2 separate regions of the Homo sapiens genome follow, and region 2 is linked to region 1. The links come from fine-mapping of genetic effects on gene expression. Tissue or cell type: monocytes after Pam3CSK4. Region 1 holds a variant in brackets; the other region holds the start of a gene. All regions are shown on one strand. Distances are from middle to middle.

Region 1 (2,847 bases):
GAATGAAAGTCTAAAGTACCTTCACTTAGGGAGTGGCCTATTTCCCTATTTTCTCATCCACTAAGCAAGAACTGTCAGATTAATCAGATTATCCCAAATTAATTACATTATCTTCTCCAACAAACAGAATAGGGAGAGGGATAAAAGCTTCCCTGCCAACCTGTCCCCCTAGGGAAGGGGTCTGCAAATATAGCCTTTGGGTCAAATCTTCCCAGCCTTCTGTTTTTGTATGGTTGTATGGGAAAATAACCATGTCCATTTGTTTACTTATTGTCTATGGCTGCTTTCATACTATAATGGCAGAGCTGAACATTTGTGACAAAGACCATATGGCCCACAAAATGGAATATATTTACTATGTTGTTCTTTACAGAAAAGGTTTGCCAAACCCTGCTCTAGAAATACTGGCTTGGCAAAACTTTATGACCATATCCACAATAAAAAATAGTCTTCATAATGTGGTCCTCTTTACATAATCATATATATTTTATATAATATAATCTGAAACAAATGTTTCATGAAATAATACCTCTTACTACATGTGATGCACTCTGACACTTTCTCTTCTCTTTTATATCATTTTTAAAGCTGATCACAATTCACTAAATTGACTTCATAACCCACTAATGAATTGCAACCTCCACCTTCTCTGAGGCAAGCATATAGGGAGAATGGTTTTCTCTGAGCTACAGTACATAAGAAATGCTGAAAAGATGATAGCAGCTGTTTGTTTTTTAATTAACTTTCTAGTAAAATATACTACTGCAGTAGGACAGAAAACATATATTTAGATTTTCCTGTGCTCAGTATTCATTTATTCAACAAAATTTCAACAATTATTTACATAATACCTATATTTCAAGTCTTTGCTAGGTTCTGTGGGTATAAAGGTGAAGAAAACAAACATGGAGATTAGACTTTAGTGGGGAAAACAAATTTGAAACAAATACAAAAACATGTAAGTACCAACTGTGATATGAAAAAAAGGTACTGAGTCCCATACATTTATAATGTGAGACGTGGATAGAAACTTACCTAGTTTAGGGCAGGATGAGGCTTTGTCTAGTTGGAATGGCTTCACTGGAGAAGTGAAAGTGGACCTGATAACTTCACAATTGAGAAGTTAACTAGGCAAACAAGGTGGGAAAGAGGAAGAGCAGAACCCAAAGAAAGGACTAGCCAAATCAATTTTAATAATTACACATCGAACATTATACAGCACCTACTATACTTCTCTAAGCACTTTATACATATTAATTCATGATTTGCCAGAAAGAGGCAGATATGAAACAAAAATTCATGCCCCAAAGCACGACTAAACCAAACAGTTGCAAGGCAGCCTTATAGAACAGGAAAAACATGGGCTTTAGTGTCAACTATACTTGTGTTTAAATTTCTACTTATCTGAGTGATCACAAGCAAATTGCCTAACTTTTCTGAGCCCCAGTTGCTTTACTACAAAATTAAATGTCATGAAAAATTAAATCAGTAATATATTGTACTATTGCCTGACATAAGTTAAAAATCAAATATTAGTTTTTTAATTCCAAATCTTCCCCTATAGACTCAAAACTCCTTGAAAGCATGTGGCTAAATCTAAGTTCATTATTAATTCAGAAAAAAAATTGTGGAGGG[A/T]AATTATACATATTGAACTGAAAAGACAAAAAATAATTCCTTCAAAACACTAAGGGAAAATTTTTTTCTACATTAATGCTGAAACCAATCTCTCTATTATATAAGAATGAGAGTAGAAAAGATATTTTATGACATGCAAGGTCTCAACAATTTACCTCCAATTCACCATTTTTTAGGTAGCTACTGGAGAACGTGCTCCACCAAATTAAGGGAATAAACTAAGAAAGAGGAAGACATGAAAAACAGGGCACAGAAGAATCCACACAGGGTAGAGTCACAGAGGATTCCCATATGATGGTGAAGGGAAGTCCCTGCAGGCCTAGAGACGCATCAATCCCAACTGCAGAACGGCACAGGCTCTGAGAGGGATGTCTTCATTAAAACCGACAAACTATCAATGTATTGACTACACTGAGAAGAATTCCAGGATTCTGTAGAAAACTTGGGGGGGATGAATTAGTAAAATGAATATAGAAAACAAAGCAAATTTTAAAATGAAGCAATTTTTAACTCCATGAAAAACAAAAATTGTACACAAAAGGAAATATAAACATGGCTTAGCTATGAACAATATTTACATATTTAAAACTATGTATACAATTACTATTCATTGAACCAAAAATTATGATTCAGGTGTATGGAAAGCATAGCGGGAAAGGCCATGTGTATTTCTATGGAGACAAGAGAGCTGTAGCCTCATCTTCCATATTAGGAAGTCAACAGGAAGTTTAAAATTTAAAAAGCAAGAAAGGGTAGTATATAGAAATATAGTAGAAATAACAGAAGAAACAAGCTAAAAAGAATTGAAAGTGGTTGGGAGAGGGTTGGGGATAGGGAGGATGGAGGACAGAACTGCTGCTTGTGTTTTAAGCCTTACAATAGTACATGTGCATTTGTGTGCAATAAATAAGAACTGAACTTTAAAATGATATTCAAATTGCATGTTCACAGAACCCCTGAAACACCTCTGAAGAGTCCAGGAAAAGTATTTTAAAACAATTTAAAGCTCAGTGGGAATTTCTTAGAATACTGGACACAGTACTGGATCACTCATCATAGATAACAAAGCTTAAGTGATTTTATATGAATGCTTTATTGGGGGCCACTTGAATTACACTTATGTTAACACTATAAGGTATCATTTTCCCATGTTACAGATTAGAAAACAATGTTAAATAACTCACTCAAGAGCACACTGCCAGTACAAAGATA
Region 2 (2,673 bases), 56 kb after region 1:
ATACTTAATTCCTTCTTAATATTTTATTTTCTATATTACCTTTGTCTTCCACTGTGGCATTATTCCCAGTAAAGACAAACATCTGTGTACCTTCACCTCCTATTGGAAAAATCATTCCTGTCTCTAGCATGACTGATAGATTAATTACCTCAATTCTCTTTTATCTTCCGTATCTTCCTACGAGTCAACTTGGTCTTAAGTTCCCTTTTACTCAAGCTCCTGTCTCCTCTAAACTGCTCTTCTTAAGACTACCATAATCGACGTGTGAATATATTAGTGTAATCGTGTTTGTAACTTGGTAAAAAAACAAAACACTATTTAGCAAACTGAAGTAACAGAATTTTGTTCATTTTTCTACGGGACATTTTAAATGACCTATTTCTTTAAAGTTTTGTCTGTATTACAGGGCCTTAATGTCTAGTTTCACAACTATATTAACCAAGCCTGAAGCAGGCTACAGTTAGGCAATATTTTCCAATATAAAGACCTCTGATTAAATTCTTACTGTGAATCTTCGGAATTTGGCATGAAACAGAACAAGCATGATTGCACCTGTTCTTCCCTATTGTAAACCATCTTCGGTGTCAACATATACAATAAGTTTTGTGGTATTTCCACCTGGTTTTCTATTTTCAAAGTACCCTTGTATGACACAGGTATAAAAATATTTTGATTCTAATCTGCCATTTTCCTTACTCTCACACTTTTTTGGACGGCTTATAATTTTCGATATGGTACAAAGCTCACTAACTGGTTCTTTGCTAGAGGCCTGCTACTGATACTGATGGTCGCTAAATGCTAGGTACGCCGCCAGTATTGCTCTTACTTCAATACCGACATCGCAGGATAAAGGCAGTCACATTTAGGCGCGCAAGCGCAATTCTTGATTAATGAGCCAAGGCAGACTTCTCAATCCGAGTTTTGAGTTTTCCTTACTTTTCCCCCAAATGCTCTTTTCCTCGGATTTCACATCGATAGCACTTATTCGAGTTTTCACGAGTAACCTGACGCAGGCGGAACCGACGAAGACTAGCCGGCAAGAATCCTACAGTCGCAGCCATCTGCGCAGCGTCCGCCGGGGACGCTCCGCGCGGAAGACCGCCTGTGACTCGACACACTCTCCAGTGACGCGGCCGTCGCCGCACCTGCGCGGCGGGGCGGGAAGGAGACTCCCAGCGCCGGGGGGAAGGGAGTCTACGACTCGGGAGGGAGGTGGGGGAGCAGGGAGGGAGAGAGGGAACAAGGGAGAAGGAGAGAGGCGGACAGGCGGAGGGGCGGAGGGGCAGAGGGGCGGAGGGGCGGTCCTTCCGGAGGTTCTTAGGTCCTTCACTTCCTGTTTGCCGGCACTTCAAAATCCGGGTCAAAGGGTGTCGCTTCGGTCTCTTCTCCCCGGCTGATCCCAGCACTCTCCGTGACAGCGCCTCCTGACTCAGCCCAGGACCGGCTTCTTCTCACGACCTGCTGGAGACTGGACGCCCACACCTGACCCGGAACTCGGAGGCGTGCTTCCTCCACCCGCCGGCTAGCAGCCCCGGGCCCTGAGCTCCCGCCGACGCCGCTGGGGGGCCCGACAGGCCCCTCGGCGCTGATGCTGAGTGGGATCGAGGGCCCGGGGCGGCGGCGGAGTACGGGCCTCTGGCGCCTTAGGCCAGCCGCAGGTGTCGGTTCTTAGGCTCTCCAGGCTCGCTAGCTCCCGCCCCGGCTTGGATGGGTCTCCCTGCGCCATAAATGTGGCTGCTGAGGCGGCGGTGGCCGTGGCCCGTCGCGCTGCTGCTGCGGCGCTCCAAGTTCATCTCCGCCCCGGGGCTCTCCTGCCCCACCTCGGGGCTGCCGCCACCCGCTCCTTATCCCCTGGCCCTGGCCTTGCAGCGTGGCGACAATGGACAAGATCCTGGAGGGCCTTGTGAGTTCCTCGCATCCCCTGCCCCTCAAGCGGGTGATTGTGCGGAAGGTGGTGGAATCGGCGGAGCACTGGCTAGACGAGGCGCAGTGCGAGGCCATGTTTGACCTGACGACCCGGCTCATCCTGGAGGGCCAGGACCCTTTCCAGCGGCAGGTGGGGCACCAGGTGCTGGAGGCCTACGCACGATACCACCGGCCAGAGTTCGAGTCCTTCTTCAACAAGACCTTCGTGTTGGGCCTCCTTCATCAGGGCTACCACTCTCTGGACAGGAAGGATGTAGCCATCCTGGACTACATTCACAACGGCCTGAAGCTGATTATGAGCTGTCCGTCGGTGCTGGATCTCTTTAGCCTCCTGCAGGTAGAGGTGTTACGGATGGTGTGTGAGAGGCCGGAGCCGCAGCTCTGTGCCCGACTGAGCGACCTTCTGACCGACTTTGTGCAATGCATCCCCAAGGGGAAATTGTCCATCACGTTCTGTCAACAGCTGGTTCGAACGATAGGCCATTTCCAGTGCGTGTCCACCCAGGAAAGAGAGCTGCGGGAATATGTCTCCCAGGTGACAAAAGTGAGTAACTTGCTGCAGAACATCTGGAAGGCCGAGCCTGCCACACTACTGCCTTCCCTGCAAGAAGTTTTTGCAAGCATCTCTTCCACAGGTAAGGGTCATTATCTTTCAGAATATCTCATAAAAAATCAGTATATGTCTCTCTTGCACACACACATTCACACCATGTTTTCCTCCTGCCCTAAAAACATTCTTAAGCGAGA

Which allele goes with the higher level. Positions count from the first base shown, and alleles are read on the strand shown. Sizes are in standard deviations (SD) of each study's normalised expression.
For the expression in monocytes after Pam3CSK4 of the gene that starts at base 1,290 in region 2, allele A in region 1 goes with a lower level than allele T (moderate effect, 0.69 SD a copy in Quach 2016).

The links. PIP is the estimated chance that this variant, and not a neighbour inherited with it, causes the effect.
Region 2: USP38-DT starts here. The variant in region 1 is fine-mapped to the expression of USP38-DT in monocytes after Pam3CSK4 (Quach 2016, PIP 0.92).

Annotation. Positions count from the first base shown.
Region 1 is chr4:143,127,658-143,130,504 of GRCh38, forward strand. All of the region lies in intron 1 of USP38-DT (USP38 divergent transcript), which reads right to left. Among named protein-coding and RNA genes, the nearest start is that of USP38-DT, 56 kb to the right of the region's middle. The variant A/T (reference allele first, on the strand shown) is at 1,636.
Region 2 is chr4:143,183,572-143,186,244 of GRCh38, forward strand. USP38-DT (USP38 divergent transcript) reads right to left here and starts at 1,290. Exons shown (of 4, transcript NR_185979.1): 1 at 937-1,290. USP38 (ubiquitin specific peptidase 38) reads left to right here and starts at 1,346. Exons shown (of 10, transcript NM_032557.6): 1 at 1,346-2,561. The coding sequence starts at 1,880. RefSeq lists enhancers at 396-1,281, 1,282-2,166 and silencers at 1,218-1,267, 1,488-1,737.